Regions from separate parts of the Homo sapiens genome. Here region 1 is linked to region 2. Evidence: fine-mapped QTL for protein levels in blood plasma. A gene starts in region 2. The other region holds a variant in brackets. All regions are shown on one strand. Distances are between the middles of the regions.

Region 1 (5,358 bases), 24 kb before region 2:
ATACCCCGAACGACGGCATCTTGAACTTGGGCATTTTGAACTTGCTGTCTTTGGCAGTCACGTCCTTGTCGGCCAGGGACAGGTCCCCCTCCAGCCACGCACCATCCAGCTTGGCCTTCTGGGCCTGGACATCCACCTCCATGCTGGGCAGAGACACCTCGCCATCGGGGGCTGTCACTTCCGCCTTGGGGCCTTTCAGGTCCAGCTTGGGGCCCTTAACATCTATCTGGGGGCCCTTGAGGTCCACTTTGGGCATCTTGAAACTGGGCATCTCCACTTTGGGCAGGTGCACTTTGGGGCCGGCTCCCTCGGGCACAGGGCCCTCCGGAAGTTTCACATCCACTTGGCCAGCCTGGACCTCCAGGTCAGCGGAAGGGGGCTGAATGCTGAGGTCAGTGGCCTTGAGGTCCCCCTGCATGGAGGAGAGGCTCACGTCGGCCTCCACCTTCGGCGCAGACACATCCACCGAGTCCTCCATGGACTTGCCTGGGGCCGACACCCCGAATGATGGCATCTTGAACTTGGGCATTTTGAACTTGCTGTCTTTGGCAGTCACCTCCTTGTCGGCCAGGGACAGGTCCCCCTCCAGCCGCGCACCATCCAGCTTTGCTCTCGGGGCCTGGACGTCCACCTCCATGCTGGACAGAGACATCTTCACATCGGGGGCTGTCACTTCCGCCTTGGGGCCTTTCAGGTCCAGCTTGGGGCCCTTGAGGTCCACTTTGGGCATCTTCAAACTGGGCCTCTGCACCTTGGGCAGGTGCCCTTTGAGGCTGGCTCCCTCGGGCAGGGGGCCCTCCGGAAGTTTCACATCCACTTGGCCATCCTGGACCTCCAGGTCAGCGGAAGGGGTCTGGACGCTGAGGTCAGTGGTCTTGAGGTCCCCCTGCATGGAGAGGAGGCTCACGTCGGCCTCCACCTTCGGCGCAGACACATCCACCGAGGCCTCCATGGACTTGCCTGGGGCTGACGCCCCGAACAATGGCATCTTGAACTTGGGCATTTTGAACTTGCTGTCTTTGGTGGCCACTTCCTTTTCTGTCAGAATTTGTTCCTTTTTTAAGCGTTTTTCATCGTGTATTAGTTGTATTTTTGTTGTGTTTGTCATTGAGTCACTGTCTTCTTTGTCTTTTAATCCTTCCTCTGTGCGTCTCTGTTCTCTTCTATCAGCTGTTGCTGTGGCCTCTCCTTCCCTTCCCTGCTCTGTGTCTTCTGTGGCTTTTTCTCTGCCTGTCTTTGTGTGCTTGCTTGGCGACCATCCTAAGGAGGGTATCTTGAACTTGGGCATTCTTATCTGTCCTTCTGTGTCTTCCCTGCCCTTGTCCTGTTCCTCAGTGATCCTTGTCCTCTGTAGTCCTTCCTCTCCATCTCCTTCATCCCCCTGTGCTTCTGCATGTGTGGTTGGTTCCCTGCCCGGCATCCACCCGGCTCCTTCCACCTCCTCACCCTTCAGGCCAGTACCCGCTTTTGAGGACGCATCCTGTCTCTTCCCTCGCTGTGGGGTACTAAGGCGCCTTTCTCTTTCTGGCTCTTTTTCTGTGGAAAATGCAAATTTTGGTGTCTTTAAATCGTGTACTCGCACCCTAATTTCTGGTGGGCCAATCTGTGTGCCTCCTTCGGTTGTGTCTCTCAAGGACAGTCTGGCGATCCCGATTTCCAGGCTCTGCAGTCCCTCGCCTTCACCCTCCCGGCTCATTCCAGGAGTTGGCTGGGCCCTGGGCTTCCTCTGGGCCACTGCTGTCTCCTGTGCCTGCCCCTCCAGGGTCTTTCCATGGAGCCTGGCTGCCCTGAGTCCCCCTTCCTGAGGGGTTCCCTCGCAAAGTCTAGGGTCACCGAGCTCTGTGGGCAATGGCATGCTCTGAGCAGGCATCACTTCTCGATCCTGTTCTGCCCTCTCCTCTCTCCTGCTGCCTGTGGCAGCCCCAGTCTCCTCGAGGCTATCACCCCAGGGCCCCAACTCTTCCAGGACCCCAGCACGGCCCACCCCACTCTGGAACCCCCTGCCTGGCTGTCCTGTCGATGAAGGGCCCTGTCCCGAGCCTGTCCTGAATCTGAGGTTGAGGAACTTCCGCCTCCTCTGGCTGCCCGGCCCTGCCTTCTGCTCTTGGCGCTCCACCGTGAGCTGGGCCTCTGTGTCTGTGCTTGTAGGGGACACGTCATGTGCGTCCCTAGGTTCGTAGGCCTCTGACGAGCTGTGTGACCTCTGGGGTCCCGGCCCCCGCTTGCTCTTTATGGATTGAAATTTTGGCCAAGAGAGCCTCTCCCTCTGGCTCTGCCTGCCTCTCCCCACCCTTGGTTTGGAGATGAGTCTCTCTTGGTCCCCATCTCCTTCCAGAGTTTTCGTGGGGGTCTCTCTGCACCCATCAGCAACATCCGTGTCCTGAAACATAGGGAGAGGGAATCTGTTGGTGCCAGTCCAAGAAGCCTGGGGCCCTGGCCCAGGGACAGATGGAGTGGGAGTGCTATCCCCTCCCAGGCTCAGCCAGCAGGGTAGTGAAGCCAGCTGGGGCCCTGCCCCCCGGGCATAGTGGTCTCACCTCCTTCTCCTTGCCCTGTGGGCCGTGCTGGGCATCGCTGGAAGCCCACTCTTCATCCTGTGGGGCAGGGAGCTGCCGTCTGATTTTGAACTGAACCTTGTACGGCTCTGAATATTGAAGGATTTTGAGAGCATCTTCATATTTTATGTTTTCAAAGAACACGGTTGTACTGAGCAGCTGATCCCCTAGACCAAGAAAGAGCAGCCCCAGGGCCGGGTGTGTGAATGAGACGGGGTCTGCTGTCTTGCCTTGGCTGGCGAGGAGGGTCCCGGGGACATGAATAGGGGGAATCCCACTGAGTCTGCCCCACCAGTCCCCCACTGAGTGCCTCAGGCACAGGCAAGGTGGATGGGGTCCCCCATTTTACTAGATGCAGTGGGTGATCCCAGCCTCAAGCTGTTGAGCAGAGGCGTGAGGAGGTCATCCTAAGCTCCAGGTGTGGTTCTTACCCCTCAATACCCCCCTCCAGGTCCCTCCCATCCTGGTGGGGAGAATGGTGACCCCAGGGATGGAACTGCCATGGCACCTTCTCTCAAGTTAAAAAGCTTGGCGGCTGAGGAGTCCTTCAGCACTTGCTTGACGAAGATCCCCTGGTCCCCACCACCT[G/C]TGACACTGTAGCCACTGGCTCCTGCCTCCACCTCTGTCTTCAGCGTCACCTCTGTTGCCTCCTGGACAGCCTGGAGCAGAAGCACATCAGGGCCATGGTGAGCATGTGCCAGTCCCACCATAAGCATCCCTGCTGGGGCCTGTGTCTCCAGAGGATGGGCACCCCACCATCCTTTCCATCAGCCCAGACAACACAGAGCAGAGTAGGGTACCCACCAGGTGGGCTCAGGTAGCTGTCTCTGAGCTCTGGAGGAAGCCAGCTGGAACCTGCCAGAACTCTTGTCCCCACCCCAACCTGCCAGGACTTAGGCACAGCCTGTCCATGCCACCAGGCCCAGCAGGGCACCAGGAGCAGCGCAGAACGGATTCTGCTTTCCCTGTGGCCAGTTTCTCTTTTTCAGCTCCTTCATGCATTCTTCACAAACGCGTGAAGCACCAGTTGTGTGCAAGGCACCTGATGCTCAAGACAAGGAAGCACAGCAATGCCAAGGAAAATACGGGACATTGGGTGCAGCCTGCGAGACCTGGGACAGGATGGGGCCTGTGTCCTGCAGAGCTCTTGGACTGCTGGGGCCTCCAAGGAAAAAAACTAGTTGCTTAAGAGGCAGAGTGCCCTCATCATTGGGTGCTAGCAGAGTCTAGCACCTTCCATAGTTCCATGGCCTGGGTGCTGACTGGCCTTTTCAGCCCCACAGCTTGAATATGCAACAGACACCAGCACTGCCCCATTGCACGGAGGAGAAAATCGAGGTCTGTACAGCCAGGTCTACCTGGCCAGGAGCTTGGCTATGCATCAGACTCCACCCCAGGGAGGGGTGGAGAGGGCCAGGACCAGATGTAGCCTTCTGGAGCCCCTGCCCTTCCCCAGGCCTGACAAGGGGGACAAGAACACCCCTCCTCCCCAGGGCACGGGGCACACTGCCAGCCTCTTTGCTCCTCCCCTGCCTGCTCTGACCTCGGACTCTCTGGCTGGATCCCTTGAGGACCGACACACCTCTGTGACCCTCAGCTCCTGCTGTACCCACCTCTGGACGACTCATCCTGAAAAATGTCCGTGAGTCCCCTGAATCTCGCTTCCACCAGGATCTCCGTCTCCCAGCAGAACCTTGCCTGCCGGGGGCGTCTTCCTGCAGCCACAAGTGTTGGGAGTTAGGCACCTGCCCCAGCTCAGGGACAGGGAGGGGCACAGGTAGGCTGGTGCCAGACCAGGAGCCCTCCCTTCAGAGGGGCCCAGAACTTCCAACACACAGCTGTGTGCAGAGGCAGCCGAGTTCCTCCAGGCACATCCACAGAGAAAAGGCAACTCTCGGCCTTCCTGCTTCCCGACAGGGCCCAGCCTACAGCCCACAGCACCCACCCTACAGCCCACAGCGCCCATAGGGAAGCCCCACAGCAACTGGAGTTTTGTATGGAGGGAGATAAGAAATTCAAATTGTACAAAAATGAATCCTTTCATAGACATGCCTCCTCTGATCCCTTCCCCGAGTCCTTGTCTCCAGAGGTAGCCATGGGGCCCTGTCCCCAAAGACAGCATGAGTGTGTTACACAGGTGCAGGGATGCACACACCCTGTGCCCCTGAAACACAAACACAGTAACATGAGGCCTGTCCCCATCAGCCCATACGCATGCTCACAAGAGCTGCAGGGCACCTCCATCCCACTGTGCCCTGGCCGGCCACAGGGAGGGACCCAAGGGCACAGAGGAGTCTGAGAGGACATCTGAGTGGGCACTGCCCAGTGGGCAGCGGGGCAGGGCAGCAAGGTTGAACAGACATGCGTGAGTTGCCCACACAGGGCGATGCAGGAGGAGACCTGGGTGCCTGTGGGGCTCTGCCCAGCAGGCTCACCTGGAGTCCAAAGTCGGCAGCCTCAGTCGTGTATTCGTAGACAGGTGAAGACCCCTGCGGCCGTGGTCGAATGCCCTCATCCGCAGGCCCTTCAGTCACCTGACGGGAGAGAATCCAGTTATTTTTGCCACTCGGTTCTCCCAGGGCCCAGGGAGAATGGGGGCAGGGTATGAGGAGGACACACTTCCTCCTGCTCTCACTTACAGAGTGGTCATCTTCCGTTTCTGCACCTGGCTCCCCGGGCTGCAGCTGACGGCCGGACACTGCAGAGAGAGTGGCTGTCAGTGGAGACAAGCAGGCTGGGGGAGCAGATCGGGGCCCGGGGGAGGGAGCCAGGACTGTATGTACACTGTGGAGGTGTCATAGTC
Region 2 (5,358 bases):
GCTGGTGCCTGGTGTGTCGGGCAGAGGGCAGGTTTGGACTGGACAGGAAGACGAGAGCAGGGGAGAGTCCGCCCATCTCCAGCCTGCTGAGAGGAAACTGCAGGTGGAAAAGGCCTGGACCAAATCCAGGCTGGGAAAGGCAGTAGTTGGCAGGGTGCTTGTCAGGAATGCACGTTCCTGGGCCGCAGGGTTGGGGAGGGTCTGGGAACCGGTGTGCTGGACAGAACTCCCAAGGTCTCTGATCTTGCAAGTCTCCTACCAAAGCTCCAGCGAGAGCCACTGACCTTATTCCCTAAGAGCGGATGGTTCCGTAGGCTGGACACAGGGAGGGACTGCCCCAGACGGGCTGGGAACCATGAAGCCAGCACAAGCCTCTGTGGAGGCAGGGGGTGGATGAGATGGTCCTGGACCCTGCAGCTTGGGAGTCTCTGGGTGCCCGTGAGTGAGGAGGAAGCAGAGCAGAAAGGCTGTGCAGGGAAGCTGGGGGCAGGGTAGTGGTCCCATGCCTGGGGGCCCTGCCCTTCTCCCTCTGAGGAGGTCGACCTGCAGCCATGTGGGCAGGGCCAGTCATAGTGAAAGAGGAGGGGGCCAGGGGCCTCCAGCCCACCGGAGCCATCATCCTCCCGCTGCTGTGCCCAAACACCTTGGGCTCCCATCTGCGACACCGTGAAGCAGGTGCTGTAGGGGCCTCCCTGCTCTGGAGCCCCCCAGACAAGCCTCCCACCCTAAGTGCGCACCAGACAGACAGGCCACAGGAGGGGCCTTGGTAGTGCCTGCTGCAGCTGGGGGGCATGCCCAGGCCAGGGGCACCCCTCTCACCTGCAGCATTGTCGGCACCATTAGCATTGACCTGTTTTCCCCAAGGAGTGGGGTCCAGCCTGCACCAGTGCCGGCCAGCCCAACCCCCTGGCCAGTGGCTGCCAATGCCCTGGGTGTGGTCAGCTGCAGCAGCATAGACCCAGCGCCCAAGGGACTGCCCTGCCCCCCTCAGCCCTGCCCTCCAAGATGCTGAGACACCCAGGCCCCGGAACCAGGCCCAGTGCAGGGACAGACACACAAAGAGCAGCAGGTACACATGCCGTAGCCTGCGGCTCAGAGGGAGGCTACTGACCATCCCTGGGGGCATGCCAGTAGGTAGCACCCACTTTCCCTTGCCCAGCACTGCGGGACCCTGTGGCCTGACTTTGACCCCATTCAGGCCCCTCACCAGGCCCCAGACCTCAGGCCTAGCCCTGCCACAGCCTCCACCTAGCCAGCGACCCCACCACACAGCCACACAGTAGACGCAGCCCAGCCCTGCCTGGAAGCCCCGGACCAAAGTGGAGAGCCCAGACTCCTGGACCAGCCTGGCTGCTCTCCCGCAAAGCAGGTGAGAGGGCAAGCCTGGTGCAGGTGCCCCGGGTCCCGGCGGCCCCGGCTTTCACGCCCCTTGCAGACACCAGCCCTGCTCCAGAGTGCGGTAGCACCTCCCAGGAGGCCGCCTCTCGACCAGACAGCGTCCCAGGAGCGGGGCAGGAGCGAGAAGGAGAGACAGACAGGGACCGCGAGTGACAGAGGGAGTGAGCGACAGAGACGAGTCAGCCACCGAGAAACAAAGTGAGCGACAGAGACAGTCTCAGAGGCCGGGAGAGGAGCAGGAACCTACAGCCACGGACAGGTAGAACGCGAGGCATGGGAGAAGAGACTCCAGCGGCCGGGAAGGCCCAGAACCACGCGCGAGTCCCGCAGGCGTCTCCGAGTCCCCCGCCCCCAAGGCCCGCACTGCGCGCCCCTGGACACGCCCCGGCGCGCGCCCTCGCGCGTAGCCCACCCGCCCCAGGGGAGCGGGCTGCAGGCGGGGAGGGGCGCACCGCTGCCGGGGGTTCCGGGCCAGGTGGGCAGCACCATGTGGAAGCAGTCGCACATCGCGGCGGCCAGGCGGTGCGGGCCTGGCGGCCCGTCGCGTCCAGTCGCTGGTCCCGGCTCCGGCGCACGGGGCGGGCGGGCGGGAGCCGCGCTCTGCCCCGCTGCCCTGCGCTGCCGCGGGCGGCCGACCTCGGACTGCGGACACCGCGCGCCAGGCTACCCAGCCGCTCAGCTAGGACCCCGCCCGGCTCCGCCCAGCCCTGCCGGGCCACTGCGGAGCGCGCTCGCGGGCGGTGCCGTCGGCCTCATTCAGCCCATTGGCTGCCGTCGCCGCGGCCCCGCCCCTCCCAGCCAGGCCCCGCCCCACCCCGCGCCCCCGGCCCGCCTGTCGCGTCCGCAGAATTAACTTTGGACTCCCGCCAGGGAGCGACCTCTGGATCCCCGCACCGAGGCTCCTGGACTTGCCGCTGTCTTCACCTCCCATTCCGGGGGAGACAGACACTTTAGTCAGAAGCTGGGGTGGGGGGCAGCCTGCGGGGACAACAGGGGTCGCGGGCACCGCAGGAGGTGATCTGGCAGCATAAGGACAAGATAGAATTCTGCAGGGGCTGGTGGGTGGCAGATACGAGGACGCGGCTGAGAGCGTGCAGCGGGAACAGGGCGCCCCGGGCAGGGCTGCGGGGTGGGCGCCGCGTGCGGGAGCGCCCAGCGCTGGGGGCAGTCCTGGAGCCAGAACCCCGCCCAGAGTCATCCTTTCTGCTGATTCTTGTCAAGAGCCTAGGGCCTAGGACACAGCGGCAACCAGCACCCCACTGGCCCTGCCCCAGGGGCTCCAGGTCTGGCGTAGACACAAGCAAGCCTGTAAGGATGAGGCGTTCTGCAGGGCGGCACTGCCCTGGGGGCGGGGGAACGGAGGTCCTGGAGGGCTCCTGGCAGTGTAAGCTGGGACCTTAGGGGTGAGACATGTGCCAGGCAGTGTAGGAAGCGTTCTGGAGAGAGGGGACAGAGTAGCGTGTGTGCAGAGAATGGGGGCAAAAGGGCTGGGGTTGAAAGTCAGGCCCAGTGGGCGGGGGCAGGGCAGCAAGGAGGCTGAGGGGGCTCCTGTCGGTAGGAGGTGCCACTTAAGGCTCCAAGCAGGGTCTCTGAGCGTGGTGAGAGCTGAGGAAAGACTGCGCAGGTGGCTAGGGGTGTTGGCATGGGGCACAGCTGGAAACAGGAGCAGTGGAACCACGGCCATGGTATGGGAGGGAGTGAAAGGATATGCAGGCAGAGGGGACTTGGTGAGGATCAGAGTGCAGAGGGTGGGAGCCTCCCTGGGATCTAGCTTGGGCACCACACAGAGGCAGCACACCTGGGGGTGTGGACAGGGAGGGCAGGGGCCCAAGGGAGTTCTAAGAGTTTGGTGACGCCTGGCCTGGTGTAGACCCAAACCGGGCATACCCCAGAAGGAGTGGAGTTCTGCAGGGATTGTCGGGGAAGGCAGGGCTGGAAGAGACCCAGGAGAGGACCGCCACCTCCATGAGGAGCTGCCTGGCAATGTCCAGGGGTGTGGGTCAGATGCAGGGACACACACACACACGGACACACATACGGATACACACACACATACATACATACAGAGATAAAGACACAGAGACACACAGACACACACGGACAGAGACACAGACACACAGATACACAGGTACACATACAGACACACACACAGAGGCACACACAGACACACACAGAGACACACAGACACACATGGACAGAGACACAGACACAGAGATACACAGGTACACATAGAGGCACACTCACACACACACAGACACACACACAGAGACACACAGACACATACACATAGAGACACAAACACACATGCTCTGTCATACACACACACACACACACACACACACGGACACCTTTTCCTGGGGTGGGAAGAGGCCAGGCTGTACCGGAAGGGCCAGGCAGACACACACACTCATAGATAAGATCACAAACTCACCAAGACACAGACACAGGCCACCTGAGATATTTGATACACTCAGGCCTGCATGCATGAACACCCACACCAGGATACAGACCCATGCACGTGTATACATACACACAGGGGCACACGCATTCCTGGGCTCATTTGGAGACCACGCACAGCTAGCGGGCCCAGGTGAGCCACCCGGGCACGATGACTCACCCTAGACAGTTCCCGTTAGCCGCGCTGCAGCCACCGGGCAGCCATCCAGCAGCAGGTCAGATGGACGCCAGAGCCACTGCTGGGAAGAGGCCCTGGCAGCCTCCTGCCAGTGAGCCCAGGCATGATGGGCACAACCTTCTCCCTCGTGTGGGGACCTGGCGCAGGTCTTACCCCACCCCCTCGCAGTGTCCTTTTTTCGGGGCTGAGCAGTGTTGCCTGGGGTCCAGAGGCCCTGCACTTACCTCCCTCCCCAGGAGCCCACCCTGCTCTGGTCACCTGGAGTCAGTCACTCCCTGGACACAGGGAGAGAGCCACTAGGGTGCCTGGGTGCATACACCTCTGTGTGTGTCCCTGGATGTGTCTATGCCTCTGCCTGGTCTGCTGGGGTTTCGCCCGCTAGTCCTCTGTGTCTGAGTCTGGCTGCAGGGCCTGGGAACGAGGGGCCGCTCAGGGCACTCACCCACCTTTGTGTCCTCAGCCCCTTTAGGTGTGTGCCCTTGACAAAGTCATGTGGCCTCCTGGGTCCCCATCCAAATGAAGTGGCCCCTCTCCTGATTGTCTGGCGTGATCTGCGCAGGGCTACGGGGACTCCCCTTGGCTTTGCGGGATGGGTGAGGATGGAGCCCTGGGTGGGGAAGCCGAGGTTGCCCCCGACATGTCCCTGTCCCTGGGCTACTACCTGCTGCCCCTGCCTCTGTTTTCCTTCAGCAAGATGAGAGAACCCTCCAGGCCATCTTGGTGGGGGCCGAGTGAGAGCGCAAGTTCAGCGTGGCGTCACGGGAGTGTGGGGACCCCACACTTGGGAGGACTTTGCCCTGGTCCTGCCCCTCAGCCTGGGGTGGCTGAGATCTTCCCCTAGCTGTGTCCACTGGGCCTGTCCTCCCCTGGCTAAGAAATGGTCCCAGAACCAACCACAGCTGCCCAGGTCCAGGAACTTTGCCTCTGCCCTGCACGGGGCTGCCCACTTCCAAGGTGGGCACAGACACACACACGCAGCTGCGCCATGCTCCCCTGTGGCCCCAGAATTCAGGATGGGGTCTGGGCAGGGCCTGCTCCACCCGGAGGCCGTCCCTCCCTTCTCCTGCCCACTCTGAGACAGAGGGCTGGTGTCTCTCTGCAGTGGCCTCTGGCTCTGCGCTGCCCTGAGTGCTGGGGCCACAGTCTGGTTGTGACTGTCGGGGAGCTGGGGACTGCCCCTCCCACCCTCCTTCTGGGGGTCTTCTCCTAGCTTGAGGGTTAAGCTGACAGTGTCATGAGTAAGACACCTTGGGGTGTCTGTCCAGAGAGCTTCCCCACCTCAAGGAACCTGGGGTCCTGAGAGCTCTATCTCACTCCAGATGCCT

Alleles and levels. Alleles are on the strand shown, and positions count from the first base shown. The strength of an association depends on the size of the effect and on how common the allele is.
In carriers of allele G in region 1, the plasma level of the protein whose gene starts at base 2,042 in region 2 tends to be higher than with C alone (moderate association).

What was found. PIP is the chance, under the fine-mapping model, that this variant and not a neighbour inherited with it causes the effect. The UK Biobank Pharma Proteomics Project read protein levels with antibody pairs (Olink). The fine-mapping took linkage between variants from a reference panel, not from the people measured, so its PIPs are less certain.
Region 1: its variant is fine-mapped to the plasma level of the AHNAK2 protein (UK Biobank, PIP above 0.99). The variant lies in the coding sequence of AHNAK2. If it changes the protein, the assay may bind it differently, which can mimic a change of level.

The regions. Positions count from the first base shown.
Region 1 is chr14:104,952,420-104,957,777 of GRCh38, forward strand. It overlaps AHNAK2 (AHNAK nucleoprotein 2), which reads right to left. Exons shown (of 7, transcript NM_138420.4): 2 at 5,195-5,253; 3 at 4,991-5,089; 4 at 4,169-4,270; 5 at 3,064-3,214; 6 at 2,538-2,722; 7 at 1-2,380. Among named protein-coding and RNA genes, the nearest start is that of AHNAK2, 23 kb to the right of the region's middle. RefSeq lists an enhancer at 4,609-4,778 and a cis regulatory region at 4,694. The variant G/C (reference allele first, on the strand shown) is at 3,144.
Region 2 is chr14:104,976,333-104,981,690 of GRCh38, forward strand. AHNAK2 (AHNAK nucleoprotein 2) reads right to left here and starts at 2,042. Exons shown (of 7, transcript NM_138420.4): 1 at 1,851-2,042. The coding sequence starts at 1,905. RefSeq lists a silencer at 2,026-2,185.